Homo sapiens: one gene and its partners. The protein of the gene in region 2 interacts with the protein of the main gene of each other region in a biochemical or structural test. Each region holds a gene or a part of one and is shown on either strand. Other genes may lie near its edges.

Region 1 (7,023 bases), on a different chromosome or scaffold from region 2:
TGAGGTACATATTGTAGAGAGAGAAGCCAGAGAAATACTTTAAAGTTGCCTTAGAGATGGTTTGATGGGTTTTACATTTGACTTGAATGAAACTCTGCGCTTCTTAGTATTTTGTGGTATTCACTGAAACAAACTGGGGCTAGGCCTGTAAGAGGAAGTTGCTTTTTGGTTAGGACCTGTTACATTAAGCTCAATATCAGTAATGATAAAATTATGGCAGTCAGTTCTATGGGGGTATTTTTGAGTAGGGCAGTTATTTTTAAGGAGAAGGAGTAGAAGAGATTAGACCACTGCTTCTCAACTAGGAGGATTTTTGTCCCCTCTGGGTACGGGCAATGTTTAGTGGCATTTTTTGGTTGTCACTGTGTGTGTGTGTGCATGTGCACATGCATGCACACGTGTGTTACTGGCATCTAGTGGGTAGAGTGGCCAGGGATGTTGCTAAACATCCTACAGTGTACAGGACAGCCCCCACCACAAAGAATGACCTGGCCCTAAGTGTCAATAGTGCCAAGGTTGAGAAACCCTGGATAGAGGAATGGACACCAGACTGAATTAGGAGGGTCTAGCTTCAGACTTCACATTTGAAGACTAATGACCATCAAATCTCTGCCTTTTGTGCCTCTGTTTCCCTGTCTGCAAAATAAATATTAATAGACATGTTCTTCTTTATAAAAATATGAGGAATCATGAGATTATTTACTCCAAATGCTCTGATTTCTTCAGGAAAAAGAGTCTCTATAAAATCAAAGCACAGTTATTATTACTGCGCCAAGATGAGCTCATGAAATTGTGTCTTAAGAACTGTACTCCTCCCCTTGGAAAAAAAAACTTCCTCTAGGAAAAAAAAACCAACAAAACAAAAAACCCAGAAATGATCTTATCATGATTACACCTGCCACACCAAAAAACAGACACACTTCAGAGAAATGAAATTCTTTCCCTTCAGCAATGAACTAAGCTGAGTCTGTAATTAAGATCTTAATAAGGGAGGCAGGAGGCTTGATTCAGGTGCTGCGGGCTATGAGGCGAGAGCGCCCATGCCAGGTTTAAAGCAAGAACAATTGGATGCAAATCCCCCGCACTGCTTAACACTCTCAGGTGTTCCAAACAAGTTCTTATTTCAAAATGGGCATGGCTTTATTTCTAAAGATGCCTATTTCTGCAAAGAAAAGGAAAGAGAGCACCTTGTTATTTACAAGTCAATGAAAAAAAAAGCACAACATCTTAGACAGTTTCCTGCAAAAGGCTGCTGTAAGGGAGATGGGATAATGCCTTCGACAGTGGATTAATCTCAGGAGCAGCCCTTGATGACAGTCTCTAGAGTGACCATGTGCTTCCGGACTCTCCCAGGCAGTCCCCAGGTTCAAATATCCTTCCCTTTGTCAGACCATATGTCCCATTTTTTTGGTTTGTAAAACATGGATACATACTCACAAAAAAGAAATATTTTTGAAACCAACAACAAAGGATGGGAATGTAAGTATATTTCTTGATTATGGATCTGCCATGGCTGAATTTCGGATTTGGGAGAAAAAGAGCTAGGCACTGATAAGAATCTTAAATTCAATCAACGTTATGTGTTCTCTAATTGACAAGGTGATGTCTGTAAGGAAATGAGATCGATTCCAGTGCCTCTGGGCCTCTGTGAGATAGCCTAGAAGTCCAGCTCCACAGTGACAGGGGTTATCAAGAGAAAGGAGGCTGTCGGGCTGCGTTCATTTCTGCTATTCCCTTCCTTGAACCCATTTAAAGGTGTGCTTGTCATGCTGGGCTCTGAGTGGAGAGGGTCAGGGAAGCGGAGATAGCACTGGACTTCTGCCCCAGGGGAGCATGCAAGGGAAAGAGGGCTCAACATTTTGCTAGGCCAATGCTGCTGTGGTAGTGCGACTGTACCACAGGTCCACGAACCCATTTCCTGCCAAACTCTCAGTCATGCCACAGTGACTAGTAACAAGAACGAAAGAACAAAAGGAAAAGAAAAAAAAAATCTCATCGACAGATGACTGATGTGTCCTGACACTGAAGACTCAGAAGTAGCTGGAGTGTCTAGAAGTCCACTTACTGCCATTTTCTGTGTGCTGGCTTTGCCTGTTATGGTTATTTTGGGAGGCGGAGGGTGTTGGGGGGCAGAAAAGCCCAGCTCATTCTTAAAGAGTCCTCTAGATGAGTCCTCAGTTAGCCTCATCTCCTGTGGGAGTGAGGCATTAAATTAAGGAAAACAAGTGGACTGTCATGAATCACTGAGATTAAGGCTAACTCATAGTTACCAAGAGATAGCACAGTGTTTCTGCCTGACCAATAAAACCTAGGAAAAACATGAATGACATATACTATCTAAATGCACAATGCCTTAAGAAGTAGACAGGAGATCTGGTTCAAATCTGAACTTTACACGTGTTTTGGTTACTGCAACTTTCTACTGGGTTTCACAGATAATTAATCCATCCACCGCCCCCCTGCCCCCCAACCACACATACACACAGTAAAAAAAGGAATTCAAATTAATTTCAAAAGGGCTATCAAATATTTTTGTTGCTTGAAATGGTTTCACTTTTACATATTTGTTGCTAAATCTTTGTTTCCTGTGGGCATAAACATAACATTTCATGTGAGGGACATTTTTAGTAACATCATATAACTATTACCTTGATATGTTAGACATATCAGGGGGAATTCTAATTCGCAAGACTGAGATTTGCAAAGAAACATGACACTTACAAATCACTGGATCCAGCCTTTGAATAAGGATCATGAACTACCTACTTAGACACCGTGTAAGCACCAGAAGCACTAGTAGTGGTTAGTGAGGGGATTAGGGAGAAAGAGACTAGCTGTTTTGTTTGTTTGTTTATTTGTTTGTTTGTTTTGTTTTTGAGACAGTCTCACTCTGTCGCCCAGGCTGGAGTGCAGTGGTGCAATCTCGGCTCACTGCAAGCTCCGCCTCCCGGGTTCAAGCCATTCTCCTGCCTTAGCCTCCCAAGTAGCTGGGATTACAGGTGACCACCACCATGCCCAGCTAATTTTTTGTATTTTTAGTAGAGACGGGGTTTCACCGTGTTAGCCATGATGGTCTGGATCTCCTGACCTCGTGATCCGCCTGCCTCGGCCTCCCAAAGTGCTGGGATTACAGGTGTGAGCCACCGCGCCCGGCCTTTTTTTTTTTTTTTTTTTAAAGAATAACTGGGATTTAATAGTCCATTGTGGGGCCCAGGAATATGTATTGGAAAACATTCCACTGGCAACTTTAATATCTCCATGACAGCTGCCTCCACTCCCTACGTCAACCATGAAAAACTGCTGTCAGCTCCACCACTATCCATATTTCTGGAGTGCCCGTTCTATCTTCCTCAAATTCACCTAGATCTCATTGTTTGGTCAAACTGTCTTCAAAGAGAGTCACCCTTTCCAATGAAGGGTACAAAAGGTTACCAACAAGGTGACTTATCTTAAAATGCAGATTGTTCAGGAAAATAATCCTTTGCAGGCTGTCATGTTCCCTAGCTGTGTGGAATCCTCATTAGCCAGCAGGAATTACTGCAGAGAGATGGCTGGAATGTTCAAAGTAAATAAGATGGAGGGGGGTGTTGTTGGCAAAGTATAAACAGGGTTTTTTTTTGTGTGTGTGTGTCCCCTTTTCATGCCCGTACTCTTTGCAACCATCTATCACCTAGGAAACCGTCAGTTACTCTCTGGCATTTTAAGTTAGAAATATAGTATTTCTTCCCAATGGCCCTGTTTCATTTGTCTTGGCGAGAAGTCCTGGTAATTCAGCCTATATGTTCTTGCAGAGTATTGCCTTGGTCCTAGTGGTTGGCATTTCAAACCAATTTGTTCAGATTTCTTTCTGACCCTAAAATGATCTAAACATAGACAACCAAGACCTCTTACTTTACATTTATGTCATTCTAATTGACTGCAATTGGATAAGAGAGTTCACCCTGAACTTCTCATGTACTCCCAACTTACATTCTTTGGATTTTATCTTTGGTTTTTTGAATTGACGACTTTCTCTTCCTCACTGATATTTCTGTTATGGGTAAACAATTCTAGTGAATGTCTCCTTTAAACACTTTTATCTATATAAAAATTCCATATCTATATATCTGTATATCTTTGTGGGTATGTGTATATAACATCATATAATAGCTGCCATTTATTAAATGCCTAATATCTGCTAGAAAGGACAATTGTCATATATTATATCCTATAACTATCTGACAAGACAGGTATTATTCTCATTTGATAAATGAGGAAAAGAAGGTTTAAAGTAGCTAGCATAAAACTATACTGTTAGAAAGTAACAAAAGTGGGATCTGAAACAAAGCCCATGTTTTTTGTTGTTGTTGTTGTTTTTTTACTATGCCATATAGTATTAAGATCCTCTTAAATGGCTATTTGTGTATACATTTTGTCTTCTATGAGCAAAGTCTTGTAATTTCAGGAATACTGAGTCCAATGAACAATAATGAAGGAATCAAGTCATTAGTATATTAGCAAGTGGGGTCATATGCTGTTAGGGCCCTATGCTTACAATACACATCCAGGCCCACAGAATACTCAACAATATTCAACCATCTCAACCTAGTAACTGGGATTTTGACATAATTCTGTCACCAAGTCTTGAGTACATACCATCCTTTCAACATCTATTGAGCATCTACCATACAAAGAGAGCTGGAGCCAGCTTGCATTGTCTGCTTACTATATGCCAAGAGCCATAGTAAGTACTTCATTCATATATTATCCCAGGTCTTCGAATAGTATGAGGCAGTTATTCTTATCCCTATTTTACAGACAATGCTGTAAAATGAGGCTTAGAGAGCTTAACTTGCCTAAGGTCCAGAGCTATAAGCCATAAGGAACAGAAATGCCTTTCTTCAAAGCCCATGCTCTATCATGTCTCTAACACAAGAGCATAAAACACCAAGTCTTGGCCCCCTCAAAACTTCACAGACCCTAGATCATGTTTTTTATTCAAGGACTTTTCGATCAATCTGCCTCTACATACAAATAGAGGGTGGGTCTCTCATATTCAGTGGGGTTTACTTAAAACTAAACAGGCCCAGTAGGCAACCTATCTGAGTTACAGGTATCCTTTAGATAACGATTTGATTGAAAGAGGTCAATAAGTAAGGTAGTGCTAACAGAGTAGGGCAGAGGTGAAAAGCATAACAGCCTATTTTAGGGATTATAGGATGGTCCAGGAGACACAGGTTTCAGAGTTTGATTGTTTAAACAGAGTGGATGGATGAGGAGACTTTACTAGCGGGACTGACAGGCCACTCAAGTCATGTAAACGCAAACAGAGAGGCAGATGAATGGGGGCAGTGAGGGACCAAGATTTCCCATAGCAGAGTCTAAGGAGAAGGAAAAATGAGGGCTACAGAATGTGCATTAAAAGTGTCACATCTGTGTGTGGGAGGCAAGGGGGCGGCAGTAGATAGGTGCGGGTGGGGGGCTGGGGAGTAGGGGGTTGGAAGTAAGATCTACGGAAGTCAGTATTAAAGAAGCGTAAGGAAAGCCTGAAAAGAAGAAGAAGAAGATAAAAGGAGAACCAATGAGGTCATAAAAGCACGAAAGTGGGAGAGAATTTGCAAAAAGGCCGGGTGCGGTGGCTCACACCTGTAATCCCAGCACTTTGGGAGGCTGAGGCAGGTGGATCACCTGAGGTCAAGAGTTCGAGACCAGCCTGACCAACACAGTGAAACCCATCTCTACTAAAAATACAAAACTTATCCAGGCATGGTGGTGGGCACCTGTAATCCCAGCTACTCAGGAGGCCGAGACAGGAGAATCACTTGAACCCAGGAGGCAGAGGTCGCAGTGAGCTGAGGTGGCACCACTGCACTCCAGCCTGGGCGACAGAGTGAGACTTGATCTCAAAAAAAGAAAAAAAGAAAAGTGGAGAGGAAGGTGTTTTTTTCAGAAGACTGGAGTGAAGGGAGAGACAGGGAACCACTGAATTCTGAGAACAGGGACTGACGTGTATCCCAGCAAGGAAAGGATGCTAAAGGAATCCTTGGCATGTTACGCACTGTACAACTTGCTAAATTTGGTATTATCAGGCACCTTCAGTACTCTAAAGGCTTTTATCTCTGTGTAGGTAAGCCATTTAGCTCTGCAAATGGGTTTACTAAATAAATAAATAAATGCATAAATACATAAATAACCAAGTTGATATTTTTCAAAGCATGTTTTAGTGATTTTAAATCCATAGATCTCATACAAGGTTTAAAAAGGAAAAGGACAGGAGTCCTACATTTGGATTGGTTGCAAAAATCATACAGAGAAAAATAAAGCATTTTAAACCAAAATATCAAAGCAAGGAAATAATTGGGAATTTAATAGCTTATGCATGACCATATTGACTAAATTAAAGATCCTCTGTCATTATTTTCCTCGGTCTTGCTTGAGGAAATACGAATACTTTCAAAGTCCTTTCCAAAGCGTTTCACGGCACACAGGTTCTCCTTTCCCTGACCTACCCCATTCAACCAGAACACAGGACTCTGACTTTCAGAATGCACCTTTCTTAATGGCATTGTAAGTTCCGTCTGTAATTTTTCTTCAGTCAAAACGTTAAAGAATGAATTTGTTGCATGGTAGACGAGATAAATAATTTAGAATTTTAATGTAGGCACGTAAGGGCTCAGAAATTTGGCAAAGCCACAAAAGCGTCTCTGCTCAGCCATTAGCAGCCAGGCCAAGGGGCCGCTGAGCCCCCGCCCGGGCTGGGCCTGAGGTGGGCGGGGCCTCGGGCCTGGCAGGCACAAACGGGGTGGGGTCTCGGGGGCTTCTGCTCAAACACAGCTGCGCAGAGACCCTTCCATCACCCTCCTGGGAAACAGCACAACCATACACCTCCAGACCCTCAGGAGGGAGCCTTCACTGGGTAAGCAAACCAAGGCCATCGAGGCAATCACCTAACCCCGCCAGCCCCCGCCCAATTAAGAACATGCTCTGTATATGAAGGGGATTTTGTAGAAAATTCTTAATAAATGAAGCCCCCGTAATTTACTA
Region 2 (7,023 bases):
GGAATAGTTGCAACTGAAATGTCTTTGTATAGAAATCAACAAGGTCAGGCCAGGCGCGGTGGCTCATGCCTGTAATCCCAGCACTTTGGGAGGCCGAGGCGAGCCGATCATGAGGTCAGGATATCGAGATCATCCTGGCTAACATGGTGAAACCCCGTCTCTACTAAAAATACAAAAAAATTAGCCAGGCGTGGTGGCGGGCGCCTGTAGTCCCAGCTACTCAGGAGGCTGAGGCAGGAGAATGTTGTGAACCCAGGAGGTGGAGCTTGCAGTGAGCCGAGATCGCGCCACTGCACTCCAGCCTGGGCGACAGAGCAAGACCTCTGTCTCAAAAAAAAAAAAAAAAAAAAAAAAAAAAATTTTAAGAAATCAACAAGGTCAGGGTTAATTAATGCACTATTTGCACCTTGAAATAATAACTCTACTTGTTTTTTTTTTTTTTTTTTTGAGACGGAGTTTCCCTCTTGTTGCCCGGGTTGGAGTGCAATGGCGCAATCTCGGCGCACTGCAACCTCTGCCTCCGGGGTTCAAGGGATTCTCCTGCCTCAGTCTCCCTAGTAGCTGGGATTACAGGCAGATGGCATGACGCCTAGCTATTTTTTTTATTTTTAGTAGAGACGGGGTTTCACCATGTTGCTCAAGGCTGGTTTCGAACTCCTGACCTCAGGTGATTGCCTGCCTGGGTCTCCCAAAGTGCTGGGATTATAGGTGTGAGCCACCACGCCAGGCCTAATAACTCCACTTTTAAAGTTTTATGTTGTTTAGATTGTAGTTTACTCTTTAATTACCAGTGTTTAAGATTAGTAACAAAAGATGTTAACTACTAAAATTCATTCATTCTTTCACAATTTTATTGGTCTTCACAAATAAATGAAAAAGTACTAAAAGGAAGATTTCTAAAACAATAGGTTTCTACAGAAGCAATTCCATCATTTATTTAAGTCGGGATCTAACTTCTAGGTGTTTTTAAAAACAGAAAATAAAAAACAGAAAAATATTTTTAAAAAATCTCTTTCCCATTAGCCTGTAATTATTGATAGTAAATGCTCCCATGATTTTCCAGATCAATACTACTATCTGGTGGTAATAATTAATTTGGAAGAATTATAGTACAATATTAAGCTTCTACAAGAGTTGTCCTAGACATTTTCACATACAGAAATAACTATATAGCATGAACTATGAAGCATGTTATTTTGTAGAAATTAATCAATAAAATCTACAGTAAAAAGGAAAAAAAAAATCTAACAACTTACCACATTTCTCATTTTCAGAGGTTATCAAGCCCTACGAGGAAGACATTTAATACCTATTACAATACATTCATTTTATATACAAATAATAGAAAGCTGGGTCTGTTATGGGTATATATCCCAAGAAATCAAGGCCTATCATTTTCAGCATCAGAGGAAAAGCAAACAATTGTTTTTTAATTAGGCTTAAAATTTTAAAATGTTATGCTATTTCTCCTTGGAGTAAATGTTTCTGGATGAGCACTGAAAAGCATGGGCTACTGCATGAAGGAACATACAGCTGTGTTTTGCCAGCCACTATTACTAATTATATCATTATTGTATTTTATATGTCAATTAAACTACATCATGTCTTAAAATCAAATATAAGATGTAGCTAAATTTCAGAGATATTAAAGTATGGGAGAAAATACAAAAAGTATTAATGTTAATAAAAAATGTTATCTCCTATGGACAAATGTGTTGTTGCTGAGACAGGGTCTCACTCTGTCACTCAGGCTGGAGTGCAGTGGTGTGATCATGGCTCACTGCAGCCTTGACCTCTGGGGCCCAAGCAATCCTCCCATCTCAGCCTCCCAAAAAGCTGGGACCATAGACATGCGCCACCACGCCTGGCTAATTTTAAAAATTTTTGTAGAGATAAGGTCTCCCCATGTTGCCCAGGATGGTCTTGAACTCCTGGGCTCAAGTGATCCTTCTGCTTGGCCTCCCAAAGTGCTGTGATTACAGACATGAGCCACCATGCCACGCCCTCAAAATATTTAATTGCCAAAACATTTCTCGAATGTCAAAGAAATGCCAGGTAGCCAGAAAAAAACAAAAGAAGCGACTATGTGCCTAGTGTTATAATGGGAAGCATCTAGAAATGTAAGAAAGAATTAGGACCCTGAAAATAGTAACTCCTATTTCATTCATACCTTCAAAATTATTTGAAGCATAATTTACATATTTCAAAAACAGCTTGAGAAAACAATACTTTAAAGTGATAGTTGTATGTAGATCAGGTTACCCTTTTAAAAAATTTCAGAACCTACCTTTTATATGGGCTTTTCATCTGAAATCTTAGTATAAGAAATGCCGATCAAAAATTACAAACTATATTTAACGATCTTAAGATGACAGCTATTTCAACAACTGCAAGATTAGTTAACAAAAGAGTAGAAATGTTAAGCTATAACTGTTCCAATTCCAAAAGGACTTACTTCAGACTTTTTTTGTTCAGATCGTTCCTGACTTTGAAGTTCACTCCATTCCGATCTTACAGGTGTATCTGAGAAAAATGAAATCTTATTGTTATTAACACCTTGAATTTCTGAAATTTCTTTGCATTAAAGTAATACAAAAAACAGATCCTAAAGATTTTAGAAACTATCGCTTCCACAAAAATTTTGTAGTTTCTGGGTAAGCATATTTCTGAAGTTTCTAAAAAAAAAAAATTGTAGTTTCTATTAATTCGAGAACATTCTGTTTCCTTCCTTCAAAACCTAAGTAAATAAATTCAGTCATCAGTGTATTACAGTCTATAGATAATGTGACAGACAAGTGAAGTATACTGCTTAATCTACAGACAACGTGACAGACTTAGACAACTGAAGTATACCGTTTCATTGCTTTCAACATTCTTTTTAATTGTTGTTGAGACAGGGTCTCACTCTGTTGACCAGGCGCGATCTCGGCTCACTGGAGCCTCAACCTCCCAGGCTCAGGCAATCTTCCCATCTCAGCTTCTTGAGTAGCTGGGACTATAGGTGCATGCCACCTCGCCTGGCTAATTTTTGATTTTATACAGACAGGGTTTTGCCATGTTGCCCAGGCTGGTCTCAAACTCCTAGGGCAAATGGAACAGAGATCCACCTGCCTTGGTCTCCCAAAGTGCTGGGATCACAGGCATAAGCCATTGTGCTTGGCTCTTTAACATTTATCTTAAAATCAGTCAAAATTCACTTTGGGAGGCTGAGGCAGGCAGATCACTTGAGGTCAGGAGTTCAAGACCAGCCTGGCCAACATGGTGAGACCCTATCTCTAATAAAAAAATTAGTTGGGAGTGACGGTGTATGCCTCTAATCGCAGCTACTCAGGAGGCTGAGGCAGGAGAACAGCTTGAGCCCAGATCGTGCCACTGCACTCCAGCCTGAGTGACAGAGTGGAACTCCAACTCGAAATAAAACAAAACAAGGCCGGGCGTGGTGGCTCCCGCCTGTAATCCCAGCACTTTGGGAGGCTGAGGCGGGCGATCACGAGGTCAGGAGATGGAGACCATCCTGGCTAACATGGTGAAACCCTGTCTCTACTAAAAAAATACAAAAAAATTAGCCGGGCGTGGTGGCTCATGCCTGTAATCCCAGCACTTTGAGAGGCTGAGGTGGGCGGATCATGAGGTCAGGAGATGGACCATCCTGGCTAACACGGTGAAACCCTGTCTCTACTAAAAAAAATACAAAAAAATAAGCCGGGTGTGGTGGCAGGCACCTGTAGTCCCAGCTACATGGGAGGCTGAGGCAGGAGAATGGCATGAACCCAAGAGGTGGAGCTTGCAGTGAGCCGAGATCGTGCCACTGCACTCCAGCCGGGGCGACAGAATGAGACTCCATCTCAAAAAAATGAATAAATAAAAAATAAATAAATAAAAAGAAAACCAAATGAAACAAAACAAAAATCAGTCAAAATTAATATATTGGTAAAATGTACTTAGACAAGTGAGCACCTCCACTGAGCATGAGACACTGTAAATACAATCAAGCTGTTTCTGCACTCTTTTTTAGAGGATTAATAGGGAGAAGTATATTATCAATGTTTTAAAGTATCATCACTTTCTCCCAGTTCTGATACTCCAGTGGTCTTTTTTTTTTCTTCCACAGACGGGGTCTCACTGTTACCAAACTGGAGTACAGTGGTGCGATCATGGCTCACTGCAGCCTCCAACTACAGGGATCAAGCAATCCTTCTTCTTCAGCCTCCTGAGTAGCAAGGACTACAGGCACATGCCACCACACCTGGCTAATTTTTTGTTGTTATTATTATTTTTTGAGACAAAGTTTTTTGCTCTTGTTGCCCAGGCTGGAATGCAATGGCGTGGTCTCAGCTCGCTGCAACCTCTGCATCCTGGGTTCAAGCAATTCTCCTGCCTCAGCCTCCCAAGCAGCTGGGATTACAGGCGCCCACCACCACAACTGGACAGTTATTTTATTTTTAGAAGAGAGGAGGTATCACTGTGTTGCCCAGGCTGGTCTCAAACTCTTAGGCTCAAGCAATCCTCGCGCCTTGGACTCCCAAAGTGCTGCGATTACAGGTATGAGCCAATGTGCTCAGTCTACTCCAGTGGTGTTAAATGTCTTTCAGTTAACACCAATCCAGTGACGCCCACCCAACAGAAATGTTTACTGACCTAAATCTAAGGAAAGCAATTAATGTTTTCATAAATAAGTGCTACTTTTTTTTTTTTTGAGATGGAGTCTTGCTCTGTTGCCCAGGCTGGAGTGCAGTGGCATGGTCTCGGCTCACTCCAACCTCTGCCTCCGGGGTTCAAGCGATTCTCCTGCCTCAGCCTCCCGAGCAGCTGGGACTACTGGTGCATGCCACCACACACAGCTAATTTTTTGTATTTCTAGTAGAGACAGGGTTTCAGTGTGTTAGCCAGGATGGTCTTGATGTCCTGACCTCGTGATCTGCCCGCCTTGGTCTCCCAAAGTGGCAGGATTACAGGCATGAGTCAATAAGTGCTATTTTTAATGAATGAAAATACACCAGATTGCAAATACACTTATAATTGCATTTTTTTTTTAAGATGGAGTTTCGCTCTTGTTGCCCAGGTTGGAGTGCAATAGTGTGATCTCGGCTCACTGCAATATCCACCTCCCAGGTTCAAGCAATTCTCCTGCCTCAGTCTCCCAAGTAGGTGGGATTACAGGCATGCGCCACCACGCCTGGCTAATTTTGTATTTTTAGTAGAGACGGGGTTTCTCCATGTTGGTCACGCTGGTCTTGAACTCCTGACCTCAGGTGATCAGTGCATCTCAGCCTCCCAAGGTGCTGGGATTACAGGTATGAGCCACTGCACCTGGCTTTGTAATTGCATTTATTTATTTATTTACTTTTTGAGACGAAATCTTGCTCTTCGCCCAGGCTGGAATGCAATGGCGCAATCTCGGCTCACTGCAACCTCCAACTCCCGGGTTCAAGTCATTTTCCTGCCTCAGCCTCTCAAGTAGCTGAGATTATAGGTGTCCACCACCATGCCCAGCTAATTTTTATATTTTTAGTAGAGATGGAGTTTCACCATGTTGGCCAGGCTGGTCTCCAACTCCTGACCTCAGGTGATCCACCTGCCTAGGCCTCCCAAAGTGCTAGGATCACAGGCTTGAACCACCATGCCCAGCCTATAATTACATTTAAATGAATTGAATTCTGATATCTAACATAAATGCAGTAATTTCTATCGATCTTAGCAAGTAAAAAATATAATTTAAAAGCATTTTTCAAACAAAGAATTAAAAGCATGTCAACATCAATTTACTTGTTTTTGAATTTAATTATGTAGCACAATAGCTAATAGATTAAAATCAGGTATGTTTTTCGGAGTTTATTATTAGAATATGAAGTAAATGTAAAAGCAAAAGAGACACTCACTATGTTCACTTGCTAACACAAACGATTCAGGAGTTCTTTCAGGTAGGGGAGGAGGTGAATCTTCACTAACATCAACATCTAAATTAAACACATAAAAATTTAGACAAATTAACATGTCATCTAAACAAAATCAGAGAGCTTTCTTGACATTCTAAAAATTCCTGTCACAAATATCTAGATCAGTTTTTAAAAATGCAAAAAAATGCAAGAAACCTTTTCCACTCATTATCAAGAATTATGATGCTTATTGAGCAAAGATAATGTATACAGAAATGACTCTCTCCCATGACTTTCCTGTCACTCTACAGACATCATTCAGTTCTCCAAGCCTGAAGGGAATCTTCAGTAGAGAAGTCAGCTGGCAAGTGACTTCTCTACTGAGCTTACTGATGATGTTTTGTGTCCAAAAAGGAAAGCTTTGGTCATTTGCGTTATGAAACGCCTAAGCCAGTGTTTCCCAAACAGGATTCAATTGCTTAACACCTTTCATGATTTTTGCCATACTATGTAACATGTGTCCTATTCACTTTTAAAATCTGACTCATTTTAAACTTAACTGTGTACCTCAGTCATGTCTTAAACAGCAATAACTGAAATAACATTGGAAATACTAGTTATTTTTCCAAAACAGATAAAGATATAGCTATTAAAGTTTTTTAAAAAATCTTCATTTATTTATTGCTAAAGATTTTGTGTACAGTGGCACATGGCTGTACTTTGAGAATGCTGACTGAAGCTATATACAGGTTTTTCACTAGTAAAAACAAAATTAGCTCTTGGGAAAGAGAGTGCATTAAGTAAGCCTCATTGGTTAGCTTTATTATGGCTTAAGGTAAATGAGTGTATTTGATCTTTGAGTTTTCACTGGAGGAATAGAAAGAAAATATAAGAATACAATCCTGTGTGTGAACTCTCAGGTTGGGGAGGGTGGGATAAAGAAAAAGAAATGCGACGGTCCTGTATTATTTTGTCTTGAGCCTTGCCCATTGTTCTTAAATGAACACACAGTTCTGCCATGATACTCTGCTATTTTACCACACCTGATGGCTATGCATAGGTCTTGTCAATTTTCAACACGCATGAGGTGAGTATGATTGCTTTTGCCCCACCTACATTTATTTAGCTGGAGACGCAAGAAAATACA
Region 3 (7,779 bases), on a different chromosome or scaffold from region 2:
ATTTGGTAGAATCAAGCTAAAACCACTCAAAACATACAATTACATTCAGCTTCAGTTTTGATTGCTAAATGATGATGCTTGCTGGTAGGATCCCAGGCAGTGGTGACTTACATGTAGTGTTGGAGAGCAGCTAGTTAGGCATTACTAGCCAGGTAGCCAAACGGACTGACTAATTCAGCAAAAAAATCTCAAAGTTAAAGATCTCAGGCAGGCTGCCACCAGACCCTGGGGAGAAGGATGCCCTGCTAGAGTCAGCAGGAGTGCATATTCCTCTTAGCTGATGTTTCCCTCTGGTGGTGAGGTTATCCGGCCTCTCATGGCTGGGTGATTTTAACAACAAATTGACCCCTCTTCTTGCCTGATTCCCAACTCATCAAACCATTTTCTGATTATATTTTGGTTTCTAAAGGATATTGTCCCACACAAAGAAACGTGCTAACCAGATGACACAAATTCCCGGTTAGTGCTGCACTTTTCTTTTTAGTTGTAAATTATAAATCAGTCTTTTGGATCTAGCCAGGGGATTAAAAGCACAGTTCTAGAGGCAGACCTGGGCTTGAGTCTTGGCTGTGTCTCTTTCTTTTAAAATTTTATTTAAAATATTTCTTTAGAGATCAGCTCTTGATCTGTGGTCCAGACTGGAGTGCAGTGGCACAATCATAACTCACTGTAACCTCGAATGCCTGGGTTCAGCCTCCTAAATACCTGGGATTACCGTTGCGACCCACTGCTTGGAGGTCTGTCCCTTTCTTTTTCTTTCTTTCTTTTTTTTTTTTTTGAGACGGAGTTTTGCTCTGTCGCCCAGGCTGGAGTGCAGTGGTGCGATCTCGGCTCACTGCAAGCTCCGCCTCCCGGGTTCACGCCATTCTCCTGCCTCAGCCTCCCGAGTAGCTGGGACTACAGGCGCCCACCACCACGCCCGGCTAATTTTTTGTATTTTTAGTAGAGGCGGGGTTTCACTGTGTTAGCCAGGATGGTTTTGATCTCCTGACCTCATGATCCGCCCGCCTCTGCCTCCCAAAGTGCTGGGATTACAGGTGTGAGCCACTGCGCCCAGCCAGGTCTGTCCCTTTCTAGCCAGGTTCCTTTGGGCAGATTGTTTAACCTTTCTGAGTCTCAATTTCCTTCTCTGTAGAATTCCATATGCGCATATCCATTTTCAGATAATAACAATACTACCTTCACAGGGTAGTTGTGAGAGTTGCATGAGATAACGCATAAAGAAACTATGACAAAGCGCAGCACAGGGCCAGGTGCAGTAAATGCTCAATAAATAATAGCTGTTATTAGAATCCTGTGAGTTTGATTAGCATAAATGCCCCTGACCCCAAAAAGAAAAATCTACATTCTTGGGACTACAAAGCTGACCAGCTGGCTTCTGAACCAGTATCTCTATGCCAGAGTACTCCCAGAGGTACTCTATCTCCAGAGGGCCTCCTTCCCCACTCTGAGCTAGGGTTTCCTGGCCATCGTTACAGATTGAGGAACTAAAAGGAATTTGGGGCCAGGTGCGGTGGCTCATGCCTGTAATCTCAGCACTTTGGGAGGCTGAGGCGGATGGATTGTTTGAGCCCAGGAGTTTGAGACCAGCCTGGGCAACATGGCGAAACCCTGCCTCTACAAAAAATACAAAAAGCTGATGTGGTGGTGCGTGCTTGTAGTCCCAGCTACTCAAGAGGCTGAGGTAGGTGGATCACCTGAGCCCAGGAGGTCGAGGCTGCATTGAGCCGTGATTGTGCCACTGCACTCCAGCCTGGGTGACAGGGTGAGACCTTGTCTCAAAAAAAAAAAAAAAATGGAGTTTGGTCTGAGAAAGAACCAAACTTGAACCTGTCCTCAAAGGGTATGGGAGGACATTGGGTGGCTCTGTGCTTCTCTTTCCAGTCTCTCTCCGAGAGTCCCCACTGAGAAGGGAACAGAAAGCAGGTGACGGCCTCGCTTCCCTGGGAATCTTAGGCAGGACCTAGAAGAGGGTGGAAAGGGAACAAAGCTGCCTGGATTCAGACTGCATAGACTGTAGAACAGAAAGCAGAGGTGGGGCTGTAGAGCGCTCCTCCCGGTGTTAGGACTGAGTTCTGTCCAATGGAGCCAAGCCTCTGGGCCCTGCCATTGCAGGACAGAGTTGTTGATGGACTGATTGATGATGGGTGTGACCACTCCTGCTCTATCCCCCAGCAGCCCAGCTGACTGGTGAGGGAATGGCCAGCCTAATGTAGGTGGCAGAGAGCCTCTGTGCTCTCTGGGAGGCCTCCTCCCACTGTCCCATCATGCCAGCTGTCTCCTCCCTTTGTCCCGATCCCTGGAAAGTGGCCTGAGGCTCTGGCTGACATCACCTCCCCTCCTCCCTCTGTCTTCTCTTTCTTGATCTCCCTCCTTTGCTCTATCTCCCTTTTTTCCTTATCCCTCGTCTCGAGATGGGCCTCCTGGGGTCGTTCAGCCTCTCGTTTTCCGTTTTCCGTGAGCCACTAGGTCCTTTCAGCCCCCTCCAAACCTTTTACTTGCCTCCCAACCACAAGCCTCTGCCAACCACCAGTGGCCATCTGTTCCCGCCCAAAAGGAGCAGATAGGACTCGGGCTACGCTTGCCCCTTCCCCTCCATTCAGGCGCAGCCTCTAGGAAGAAAAAGGAGAATGGGGAGGGGGCGGGGAAGAGGGGCGAGCCCGGAGCCAGGAGGAGCAGGGGATGAGGAGTGAGAGGGAGAAGGGAAACAAAAGTGAGAGGAGGGGGACACAGCCTCCTGGAGAAGAAAGGGACCAAGGAGAGAGACAAAGAGAGGGCAGAAATAAAGTGACAGGAGCGCAGGGCAGGCCGTGGAGGTCTCTCCCCGGCAGCCTCCACTCCCTGGTGGACTCACCGACGTGGCAATGGCCATGGCTTTGGCCTCCCGCGCAGCCTGCCTCAGGCCAGGCTCGGTTTTGCTGACTTCAGCGGTGGCTGCCCCGCACCATGGTCCGCGGCCTCTAGCCCCCAGCTGTGGCGCCTGAGTCGTGGCCTCCGCCAAGGTTGGAGGAGGAGAAAGAAAACCCACAAAACTTCCCAAATGAGAGGCAGGCTAGCCAGGCAGGAGGAGGAGCGGGGCGGGCCGGGGCGTCGCTGCGGGACGGCATCCAAGGGCGCGCGCTGCGTGCTGTCCCCGCGGCCTCCCGGGCGCCACCGGCTCGGCCAGGCCCCGGGAGCTGCCCGCCCTAGGCCGCGGGGGCGCCCCGGGCTCGCAGGATCCGAAAATTCCCTTCCCGGGCCGGGGCGGGTGAGCAGGCGGGCGCTGGGCTGCGCTCGACGCCTCTCCAGGCCGCTCAGGAGAGCCTCGAGGGCTGGGAGAAGCCGCCGGGGCGGTTGGGCTGGACGAGCGAGTTTAGGGGCCAACCGTCTCCACCCGCCGGCCGCGCTGCAGAGCGGTGCTCCCAGGGCTGGGGTCTGCGGCGACCCCGCTGGGAGGAAGGGAGAGCGAGAACTGAGACGCTTGCCCCAAGTTGCCTGGAGCCAAAGGCCCCCGAGAGCGTGGCCGTGGGGCTGGGTCGCTGGAGTGGCCGCTTCGGCCCAGACACTCGCACCCCCGGCGGTGCGGCGGTTTTCACGCGCGCACTCACTCAGCGCGCCCGGGGGTCTGAGGTCGCCGCTACGGCGCCTCGCCCCGGGCAGCAGCAACCAGCACGCAGGCACCCCTGGAACAGGCGGGACTGCCTTCCCGACGCGCGGCCTGCGCCCAGGCGGCGGAGGGGCCCAGCCCCCTTCCAGTCCTCGGCTCCAGGGCGCAGGGCCACGAGCTCCCGCTCCCACCCTCGGCCCCTGGCACCCGGCGCCGGCTCCGCCGCCCTCTCTCACACGCACCCTTGGCAGGGCCCCGCGGGGCGCCCCAAAGCTTGGGGGCAGCTCCCAGGTGTCTCTGGGAAGGGAAAGAAAGGCCACAAAGCAAAAGAAGGAGCAAAGAGAAGGCGAGGGAGGAGCAGGGGCCCGGGTCCTGTGGACTCGCCTGGGCTGGGAGTGGGGACACTGAGAGGGCTGCGAAGGCTCCGGGGGTCGCGCGTGGCCCGCAGGCTCACCCCTGGCCCGCGGCTGCCCTTCCCTCCCCTTCCTGGGCTCCTGGCCCCTCTCAGTGCTGTTCCTTTCTCCTCCCCTCAGGCCCTCTCCTCTCCCGCGCAGGGCTCCGTCCTGGGGATTAAGAGAAAGGAGGGAGGGGAAAGGGGAGGGGAAGGGAAGGGGCGGAGGAGAAAGAGGGACGATCCTTCCAAAGGCGGGTGTTGAGTTTCAGCTCAGGACCCTCGGGTCCAACTGCCTGTGGTACCCCCCACACCCCCCACCCCCGTCCCGCCCTGGCCCTGCCCCAGTCCCCGGCGCCTTCCTCCTCCGGACTCCGCTGCATGCCTCGCTTGCGGTGGTCCGATCGGCTTTCTCCGGGAGCTTTCCTCTCCCCGCCACGCCCCCGTCTCCCCGGCCGTCCCCGCGCCTCTCGGCCTCCCTTTCATTAGCCCCACATCTGTCTTTCCCATGGGAGGGAGCGCGCGCCTTCCGCCCAGCGGGGCCCTTAGCAGAGCCTCTCCAATCCTCGGCGCCTCCCCTACACAGGGTTCGCTGGGCCGTTCTTGCGGGGCACAGGAGGGGAGTCTGGCGCTGGACATGGATTCTGGCCCTAGTGACAACATGAAGCAGGGCGTCTGGCCCCAGAACTGCAGGCGGGCAGGTTGTGCGGCCTCTTACACTCCTCTGCCAGTCTGGGCCTGTCGGCCTCCTCAGCCTGGCTCACTCTTGCTGCTATGAGGAGAGGATTGGGCAGGACCGCTGGCACAAAAGTTGCTAGAACTCTTCCAGAGGAGATGGGATCTAGCCCCACCAGGAGTTTCCACTGAAAGGATGGTGCTCCTAGCCCCCTACAGCTCCTCTGCCCTGGGATAACTCCTTAGTGTGTGCTGCTTCCCTGGACCTTCCCTCTGGGACACACACATCAGGGCCTCTCAGGCTTGAGTGAAGCCTGCCTTCTTCCATTTTTGAGGTTCCTGGTATTTAAAAAGCAAGATGACAAACAGGATTGAAAGCTGTGGTATATTTTGGATGTTTACATTGAACAAATTAACGCTTCAAACACATACAATAGAGAATGACTCTGTGCATAACCTTATTTGGAGACAAGATCAGAAATGTAATATAAGGCCCTTGGTGAACTTGAGGCCCTGGACAGATAACCTTGCCTCAATATTCCACAGGCCCACACATCTAGGCATTTCCTAGGAGAGTGTGGTCAGGACACCTGCCCCAGCTCCTTCCCCACTGTATTACCTGGGCACCTGTGAAGAAACCTCTGCTGGAAGGGTGTGGTGGAGCCTATGGGGTGGAATAGGGAGAGATTCTGGGATAAACATGGGGATGGGGATAAACTGTGTTGGCTCTAGGCTGGCTCTCCATGATGGAAGACTCCTGAATAGATTCCAACTCCACTGGGATGGTAGAGGAACTTTTAAATTTCCAGGGAGAGCTCCTGCTTCCCAGCTCCAGTTAGGTTAGAGGTGGCCACTAGGGAAGATTTTCCAACCTCTTCCAGACCCCAGCCCTGGGGGACCTGGCTGCCAGGCACACGGATATCCAGCTGCTGGCGAGTGACTTGGTGTGATCTCTGCCCAGGAGACTGCCAAGGCAAATTGGGGTCCAAGGTGGAGGTGGGCAGGAAACCCTGTCTTCAAAGATGAATGCTTTGACTGGCACGAGGGGAAATAGATGGAGGCCAGAAAAGGCTAAGGAGGAAGGAAACTGCTAGGACCAGGCAAGGGTTGGCTTGGGAGATGGGCAGGCAGTTTCCCTGCCCGGGGAAGGGTAGAAGAGGGACAGCAGAGGACAGACCAGTGGGAAATAAGGCTGCTTCTGGAATATCCAGGTGTGGAATGGAGCCAGTCAGAGTCACAAGTGAATCCTGCTTAACTAGCTGTGTGACCTTTGTCCAGTTATAGGGCATCCGAGTCTCAGGTCCTCCTCTGTGGCAGTGACTTTGGTGAGGAGTAAGCTTATGTAGATTGCCAGGCACAGTGCTCTTCTTCCATGGCTTTTCCTCTTTACCTTGGCTTCCCCTCTGACTTGTGCTTTCCAGAAAGCTGAATGTGTTCGTTGTTGAGGGCAGGTGAGGTTGGAGAAAACCCAGGCTTGGCAGGTAGCTGAGACCCTGGGTGGGTGGCAGCCTCAAGCAGTGGGTCTTCAAGGTTTGCCCTTGCCATATTCAGGGAGAAGAAGGGAAGGAACCCCTCCATTTGGCTTCCCGGGTCCCAGTCTTTTCTCCCATTCTTTCCCCTTCCCTGCAGGTCCAATGAGCTGGTTTTTTCCTCACCTGACCCCAAGACTTCCTGGACCTCTCCTTGTTTCTCCTGCTACCCAAAACTTCTTGGGTGCTCACCAATTCTTCAGTTCTCCTCTCTTTGGACCCATAGCACCTAGATTGCCTGGGTTCTAATCCTGGTTCTAACACTGGCTAGTTACCTTGGCCAAGTTCTGTGACTTCCTGGAGCCTCTGGTTCCTTGTCTGTAGAGTGGGAATGTTAATTGAACTTTTAGCATTTACTTGTTATGAGGATTAAGGGAATCCCAAGAACAGTATCAGGCCCATGAGGTGTAAATTTTGGACAAAGGCAACTACTATTATTGTTATTTGGTGATGGCCTTGTGGTGGCACTAGAATGTCAAGGACATGGTGCCTGCCCTCAAGAAACATATCATGTAGCTCATGCTTGAATCCAGTCAATATCTTCCGGCTGACTCTGGAATAAAATCCAAATGCTCCATGGTAGCCTGGAGGACCCTATGTGATCTCCTCCCTGCCCACCTCTTTCACCTCATCTTGTCTCCCTCTCCTCCTTATCTCTTGTTCAACATCTACACTGTCCTTTCTGTTTCTCAAATATGCCATGCTCTTTTCCACCTCTAGGACTCTGCATGTCCTGCCCCCTCTGCCTAAACTACTTCCCCCAGACCCTTTCTGTCATCAGGTGAAATCCTGCATCCTCAGAAAGGCCTTTCCTGGCTTTCCAACTTAAAGTTGCCCTGCCTTCCTCTCCCCCACCCCCAGTAACTCCCTATCTCATAATGCTGTTTCATTTTCTTCATAGCACTTATTATTATCAGAAATTATCTTGTTTCCTTGTTTATAATCTGTCTCCCCCTAAAACGTAAGCTTCATGAGGCAGGGACCTTGTCTGGCTTGTCCTCCCCTGCATTTCTAGCTGTTAGAATAGTGCTTGGAACACAGTAGGTGCACAGTAAATATTTGGTGAGTGGATAAGTGAACGAAGGCAGCCATGACTATAGGACAAAGCCGAGTAAGCTGAGGGGCCTCCTGGGGAAGGCTACAGCCCTGGACTAAAGACATGGGTTTGTTGGGTTCTTGGTTCTGCTAACTCTGATTCTCCATGTGTCTCCCAGGGTCTAGACTGGGTTCTCCTTGAAGGCTGCTCCTGAGCCTAGGCGTTTTTGTAGCTAAACCATTATCATCTACCAATCAGAAAGTGGTAGCACTGTTCTGGGGGCCTCCATCTGTGCCAGGTGTTCAACCTTTAGTTGCTGGATCATAGGGAAGTATGGTAAGGTGGTGTCCCAAGGCTGAAGGAAGCATCTACTTACCAGCAGGAGCAGAAGTATTTCAACATTTTGATGTTCGGTGCCTTAGCTTCATGTACAGTGAGTGCCGATGAGCTTCAGTAGACCCTGCTGAGTCCTGTGGATTCAGCACTATTTCAGGAGCTGAGGTCTGGAGCAGCTAAGCTGGTTGGCACCTTTGTGACCATCCAGGTCAATGTTCCCCCCAAT
Region 4 (7,023 bases), on a different chromosome or scaffold from region 2:
TTGTGTGTGTGCACATTTCTGCAGATCTGTCTCCCCACACAGAACAGCAGAGTCACCGCTGCTGGTCACCAGAGATACCAGCCCGAGGGACTCAACGAAGGGCTCGATGACATGGCCACCCTAGCACATGGGGCCAATGTGGGGTGAGGGAGGTCAAAGTGAGAGGAGGGTGCAGGGCCTTGCCAGGGACCAGGCCCCAGCTGAGAACAAATCTCCCCCTAAGCACAGGAGCCCAGCGTGGCAGAAGAGGAGCCGGGGCTGGGCAGGCGGCACCCACCTGTAGGTGGACGTAGTCATAGTCCTCCATCCAGCCCCCCTCGCTGTTCTCGTACTGCCCATCTGGCGAGTCCTGGGAGGTGAACTTAGGGGGTGAGGGCAGGGGTCGTGACTGGATGCTGCTGGTCTTGTCAGTGGGGTTGGGGTGCAGGGTGCCACCCCCCTCAGGCCCCGGGGCAGTGGCCTTGGTCCGTCTGAAGAGCAGTGAGGCATTGCCGTGCAGGAAGGAGGCCAGCTGCTTGGCGTCCTCGGGCACAGCCCGCGAGCAGGCCACCAGCCGGTCCAGGTCCTCAAGGGTGGCTCCAGAGCCTCCCCGGCCAGCGTCGAGGGCCTGACCATGTGCCACCAGCGTCTGGTGCACGTCCTCCATCTTCTGCAGCTGCCGGCTAAGCTTGGCATGCAGGGCACGGTCAGATGTGTGGGCAGCATTGCCCACCGCGCTGCGGGCAAACTCCAACAGCTCGTGGACGGCACTCTGGACAGCGGCCACAGCAGCCTGCAGGTCCTGCACCAGCGGCTCCTGTGGCTCAGAGGGGCTACGCCAGCTCCCAGTCGCACCGGCGCTGCCTGCCAGGTCCAGAAGGTGGGCAACGGTGGCGCTCACACCCTGCTGCAGCCGTGCCAGGGCCTCCACAGCAACTTCCAGCTCCAGGGGTTCCCGGCCCGGCCCTGCCACCTCCAAGGAGGACGCAGACTGGCTGCTGCGTGTGCTGCCGGTGCTGGAGGCCGACAGGCGCTTGCCCTCTGCCGGGGCTTCACGTTCAGCTGGGGGAGGCACCGCATACACACCACTGTCGACCACGCCACCATCAGCCACCTCAGGAGGAAGCACCCGTTCACGGGGCACATCGTACAGGGTGCCCGGGCCAGGCCGCCGCAAGCCAGGGGGCACGTCGTAGAGGTCAGGAGCCGGGGGCGGCACGTCATACACGTCCTCGGCCGGCGGGGAGTCTGGAGGGGGCGCAGCCAGTACCAGTGGGGTGCGGGCCGGGTCAAAGGGCTTGGCCTTGGCGAAGGCGGGGGGCACATCGTAGGTCTCCTCACGCAGCAGTGGGCCATCGGGCACATCCTTGCTCACCGATGGAGGAACGTCGTAGACCTGGGGGACAAGCGGTGGTCAAGACTGTCCATCTGTCCATCTGCCCACCCCAGGGACTGGGGGCAGCACCCAGCCACACACACACACACACGTACACACATACAGACACACACACAGAGGCACGCGCACACACACAGGCACACATACAAATGCAGAGGCACGCACACAGGCACACACACGCGCACACACACTCGCAGCCCTAGCACACACATCCTTCACAATTCCTATCCATGACAGCTCTGGGACGAGCCGGCTCTGGAGCCAGGTGACCACCCCTGTGCCTGAAGGTGGGAGAGCTTCCTCCCAAAGAATTGCATGTGTTAATTCACATAATTGTGTCACTGCAGACACTCACTGAAAGGTTAGCTGTGATACTGCCACTGCCACCACCATCATATCATGATTTCATCACCATCACCGCCGCTGCCACCTCATCACCACCATCACTGTTACCACCCAGCACCACCACCACGTGTGAACTTTCTACTCTGCAGCAGGTGTGCGACTGAGCTCTGTGTGTATTATCAGGGGACCAAATTCTGGTTTGCCCAGGACAGTGCTGGTTTGTCCCTGATGCCCCCACATAATTACTAGTCCCCCCTTCACTCTTGGAAGTATCCCAGGTGAGATGACACATCCCGTGGTCACCTTGCGGATACCCTCTCAGGAGCTCATGGAGAAGGCCTCGCAACAGGCGGTTCTGCCGACAAAGAACCTGAGGCTCAGAAGACAGCTTGATTTCCTCATCTGTCAACCATCCAGAACCAGGGTCTGGAGCCAGTCTCTTCCTGCCCGCCACCCCCAGCCCTGCAGACACTGGTCAGCACCCCTGTGCACACACCCAGACACCCCACAGCCTCAGCCTGGCCCTGGCATTGCCCTGGCATTTGCTCACTGCGTGGTGGTTGGACGGTGGCAGGCCCTTCTCCACACTGGGGGGCACGTCATACACCTCCAGCAACGGGTCTCGGCCATTGGGACCCTTGACAGCCATGGGGGGTGTGTCATACACCTGGGGCAGAAACAGTGCAGGGTTAACGGCGCCAGGGCCACTTGGGGGAATAGGAAAGGTGGGAACCCCGCAGCACCGTCCCCAGGCCTGGCCGGGGCTGAGAAGATGCAGCTCTCGGCCCAGGGCCAAGCAGAGGCACAGACTTGCCGCCCTGCCCTCCCACCGCTGCGCACCCCACACCTACCTCCTGGCCATACTGGCTGGGAAGCAGCCCCCGAACCGGGGGCACATCATAGATGTCCTGTGGCCCCGGGGCCAGCAGGTGTCGCGGGATGTCGTACTCGTCCTGCTCCGGCTGGGCGGCCTCGTATACATAGCCCTGCCCCACGCGGGTGGGCACCACCACCTGGGGGCAGAGAGCCGACTTCACTGCTGCCCTCAAACCAGCCCTTAGGGAGGCTCCACTCACACCTGGGAGCCACGTCCTTTTAGGAGGTGGGCAGGGCACACCAGGTGGAAGGGACGGGGCTCCCCAAGGATGCCAGTTCTCACCCCCTCTGCACCATCTGACCTTCCTCTAGCAGAACGCAGTGCCAGGTACGGCAAGAACTCTGGGTTTTATTCAGAGCTGCCTCGTCCTGGGCCAGGACACCAACGTCTCTACAGCCTGCTGACCCAGAAGGCTCCACAGAGGAGCATGGGTATGAGCTGATGACACCGGTGGGGTGAGGGGCTGAGGCCCTGGCTCTGGAGGGCACTACCCACAGGCAAGGAACCCCCCGTTACTGGGGCGCCTAGCCCCACAGGACAAGAGGCCACGTCGGAGGCCTGGGAGTCTGCTGCCCACACCACCTAGCTGTAGCCTCCTCAGAAGGGTTGGCCCAGCAGGGGACTGCATCCGGCCCAGGACCAGATAGAGCCTAGCACCCCCTGCCCCACAGCACAGCATGGGGAGACTCTGGAGGACAGGGCCAGAGGGGCAGGTTGGGTGTGTGCTGGGGGGCGCAGCAGCTGGGACCAAGGCCCCCTCCCTGCCGCGCCTGCCCCGGGGGAGCTGCCTGCAGCAGGTAAGATCCCCAGCGACCTGAAAGGATGAGGCCTAGTGGGGGAAGTGGGTCCAGGGCCAGCCCTCCCCTCCCCAGGTGCTCTTACCATGACCCAGAGCCCAGGGAAGCCAAGGCCCGCACAGTGGGTGAAGAGGCAGGCAGCACAATGGCCTGCCCAGGGCCACAGGACCCCTCACCAGCACCAGCCTGAAGCGGGTAGGGGCCATGCCAGGCAGCCTCCTTCCCTGAAGGTCTCCCTGCCTTGGGGAGGTCAAGGCCTCCCTGGTGGGATTCTCCAGCCCCCGGGCACACTGCGCCCACACGCCTCCACCACCAGGCTCCCTGTTCAGCTCTCTCCACTGAAAGACCTTTTGTTCCTTCATCAAAGGGGATGTCTGGGACAGGGTTGACTCAGGGCCTCCCCGCACATCCCCCAGGGCAGCAGCGCCAAAGCAGCCCCTCCCCCGGGCCCAGTGCCCCTGAACCCCTAGAGGCCCTCCCAATGCAGGCAGGCAGCCAGCCCTGCTTGCTGAGGGTGCTGTGAGGGGGGCGCTGAGCATGGGGGTGGCAGAGGCGCCAGCACCCCCCAGCAGCCGCAGGCCTGGCAGAGCCCCCCGCAGCGCAGCAGAACTGGGCCCACTAGGTCTCCAGCACGCCTGGTAGCAGAGTCCCGGCTGGGGGCCTCCGTGGGGTGTCCCCGCCCCCTTCCAGTGCGTCTGGGAGTGGATTTGGCGGCTGCCTCTCCAGACTCATCTCCCTCCACGCGCCCCAGACTTGAGTCTCCTCCAGAACTATTTTTAGATGCAGGGACCTGCCAACAGCGGGGCAGGCGGGGCGGAGGGACGTGGCAGGTTGGCTGGGCCTCGAGGCACGGCCTGAGGCTTCTCCAGGCCTCCCAGCCTCCCAAAGGCAGGTGGGGACCCAGCCTCAAGGCTCAGCCAGGACCCAGCACCAGCAGGAGGGATGAGCATCCTCCAAAAGCACCCTGCCGGTGGCCATCCCAACCTCACGCGGTGAGGCCCAGGGGTGCAGCTGGACCCAGGCCTGCCTCCCCAGGCAAATGGCCGCCTGCCACTCTTGGAGCTGAGTCGGGTGGCAGTAGGCAGCCACAGTGACCAAATGTTTCTGTTAGAAAAACAGAGCAACGCAGCCACCAGGGGGAAAAGCTCTTTAGGGGAATGACTCAGCCCCACTGCTAATCACAGGCCACCCTGCTGCACACCTGAGACCCCACTAGCAGGCCGTGGAGGTCCCCCGGGGGTTAGGGGAACACAGCCAGAGCCCAGGAGGAGAGAACAGAGGCACAGTCACTGACATAAGACCCACACGGTCTCTGACACACATGCCTCATACAATGCAGAGAAAACACAGCACAGGCCCACTGCCAGGTGCACGCACAGAACCCAGGCAGCCCCAGGGCCAGGGTGCCGCCCCTCTCCTCCCCTACTATCAGGCATCAAGCGGGGGGACAAGCGAACTCAGGAATACATCCCAGCCTCCCGGTAAGGGCCCCAGAGGCAGGTGTCAGGTCGGAGGAAGGGGACAAAGTGGGCCCCCGCCCTGGAGCTCAGTGGCTGGTCTCCCCCTTCTGCAAAATGGGTGTCGCCCCTGACCTGGGTTGGCTCCCGGCTCTGGCACCCCCAGGTCCCAATCCAGGAGCCTCGTTTCCTCCTTGGGAAATGGAGCACCACAGGAGCGCTGCGACCACGGCCACCAGGACACACCCCAGCATGAGGGGCTCACCCGACCTGGGTCATGGTGGCCTGAGGGGCCACCACCATAGCCCGCTCCCCTCCCTCCCCAGCTCCAGGCACCCCAGCCTGAGGTCCCAGCACAGGGGAGCCTGGGGCAAGATGAAGCTTCTAGGGCGAGGAGGGTGAAACACAGGCCCGACAGGACCACGTGCACGCCTGACCTCACGCCATGGCTGTCTCCTTAGACACTGACCAGGGGCACTACCTGAGCGACCTCCCACAGACGCCTTCCCCCGGGGGTCCCATCTGACCATGAAAGAGCCTCTGCCCTCAGATTCCTACAGCCCACACCCGGCCCAAAGAGTCTCGGTGCCAGTGTGGCCCTCACCTCTCCCTCAGCCATACGGGCCACCAGGCTCCCACCTTAGCAACCACTGGACCCTGCTCCAGGGCCCAGGGTTCTGACCCTCCTGGCCACCATCCTTGTCACTCACCCTCTTGGCTTCCTGAGAGCCAGTGTCCCTCCCGCCCACGTGAAGTCCTGGCAAGGGCTCCTTCTCAGCCCAGCCAACCACTACCCTGGAACTGGGAGACTCAGTTTCCCAGGCATTTGAGGGGCAGGCCTGAGGCTTGGAGGGGAGCACCTGGAGGTTCAGACACAGATGTCCCGCAGCCAGGTGTTACCGCCGTGCCACCGTAATGAAGGCATGAGCAATCGGAAACTGCCCAGGGCCCGCCCCAGCAGAGGGGGCAACCCAGCAAAGTCCAAGGCGGCTCAGGGACAAGCTTTAAGAATTCAACAAAATGCTTTTGATATCTAATGTTGGATTTACAACTTTGAAATGCAAAACTGCATGTATAAATCTGTGAAACACAGGGCAGATACTAGACAAAATATGCCAGAATTTCCCAGTGATTACCGCGATTGGAAAATTTCATCTCCAGACTTTCCCATACATTATGCATTTTCTACAGCAAACAAGCATTGCTTTTGTGATCATAAAATACAAGCAGACACAATCAAGACTGGGGGAGGTTTCCTGGGGGAGAGCAGCCAGGCCCAGGACACAGGGCTCTCCTTCCTGGGCCATCAGCCAGGTCAGGGCCCTTGGGGCACAGGTCTGGGCAGCTCTACCAGTGGGCATGGGCAGAGAAGGACCCAGCTGGCTGAGCCCCTGATGCAATTGAGAGCAGGCCCCCTGCCGGAGACGGAGACAGAACAGCTGCCAAAACACAGCCTCGAGGCCGGGCTCTGTCTGGGGGTCTCGCTGCTGCTCCCCAGCCCACAGGGCTTCCAGCCGCACCAGGACAAGCTTCACTGCAAAGGCGGGAGAGGAGGGGTGGGGATGTGCCTGACCTTGGGGCATGTGCAGTGTGGACTGTGTGTGCGTGTGCATACGCACATACATTTGTACGTTTGTGGGATACTGGTGGGTGCACACGCTTTGTATGTGTGGACGTACACGTGTCTGTGTGTGGGGTGAGTATGCACGTGTGTTTACACATATGGGGTTTGGGTGTGTGCGTGTTCATGCATATGATGTGCGCATGTGTGGGCGTATACGTGTGTCCATTTATGGGGTATGGGATGCAGATATGTGCATGTATTCACGCACATTCATGTAGCGCATGTGTGTGTTCGTGCATATGGTGTGTGCATGGGTGTTCGTATCTGTGGGGTACAGGCATCATGCACGTGTGTTCATCTGTGTGGGGTGTGGGTATACCTGGACTGTGGCCTGAGGCTCCCCTACAGGACACTGCTCCCTGCCGCCTCCCCAGGGGATAACAGGACCCTGCTCCTCTTGCTAAAGCCAGTTTGGGAGCACCCCCACCCAGGCACCCCACGCCAGCCAGGCTCGCCTCTGACCAGATGGCTGAAGGAGCAGGTAGAGCAGGAAGTGGGAGCCAGTGACCCAGGTTCCCCTGGTGGCCAGGCTTGGTGGCCCATGTCCA

The links.
Region 1: the proteins of PTPN12 (region 2) and NEDD9 form a complex in vitro, tested with the Homo sapiens proteins (one study listed by BioGRID).
Region 3: the proteins of PTPN12 (region 2) and EFS form a complex in vitro, tested with the Homo sapiens proteins (one study listed by BioGRID).
Region 4: the proteins of PTPN12 (region 2) and BCAR1 form a complex in vitro, tested with the Homo sapiens proteins (3 studies listed by BioGRID and IntAct, with this or other methods).

Annotation. Positions count from the first base shown.
Region 1 is NC_000006.12:11,222,646-11,229,668, forward strand, and holds part of NEDD9 (enhancer of filamentation 1), read right to left. Parts: intron 1-7,023. UniProt on the Homo sapiens protein: Scaffolding protein which plays a central coordinating role for tyrosine-kinase-based signaling related to cell adhesion. As a focal adhesion protein, plays a role in embryonic fibroblast migration.
Region 2 is NC_000007.14:77,631,282-77,638,304, reverse strand, and holds part of PTPN12 (tyrosine-protein phosphatase non-receptor type 12), read right to left. Parts: intron 5,958-7,023; coding exon 5,880-5,957; intron 2,540-5,879; exon of another isoform or gene 2,524-2,539; coding exon 2,456-2,523; intron 1,288-2,455; coding exon 1,257-1,287; intron 1-1,256. UniProt on the Homo sapiens protein: Dephosphorylates a range of proteins, and thereby regulates cellular signaling cascades. Dephosphorylates cellular tyrosine kinases, such as ERBB2 and PTK2B/PYK2, and thereby regulates signaling via ERBB2 and PTK2B/PYK2.
Region 3 is NC_000014.9:23,362,154-23,369,932, forward strand, and holds the start of EFS (embryonal Fyn-associated substrate), read right to left. Parts: upstream 3,020-7,779; 5' UTR 2,873-3,019; coding exon 2,855-2,872; intron 1-2,854. UniProt on the Homo sapiens protein: Docking protein which plays a central coordinating role for tyrosine-kinase-based signaling related to cell adhesion. May serve as an activator of SRC and a downstream effector. Interacts with the SH3 domain of FYN and with CRK, SRC, and YES.
Region 4 is NC_000016.10:75,234,612-75,241,634, forward strand, and holds part of BCAR1 (breast cancer anti-estrogen resistance protein 1), read right to left. Parts: intron 4,050-7,023; exon of another isoform or gene 3,483-4,049; coding exon of another isoform or gene 3,480-3,482; intron 2,734-3,479; coding exon 2,572-2,733; intron 2,388-2,571; coding exon 2,271-2,387; coding exon of another isoform or gene 2,217-2,270; intron 1,376-2,216; coding exon 278-1,375; intron 1-277. UniProt on the Homo sapiens protein: Docking protein which plays a central coordinating role for tyrosine kinase-based signaling related to cell adhesion. Implicated in induction of cell migration and cell branching. Involved in the BCAR3-mediated inhibition of TGFB signaling.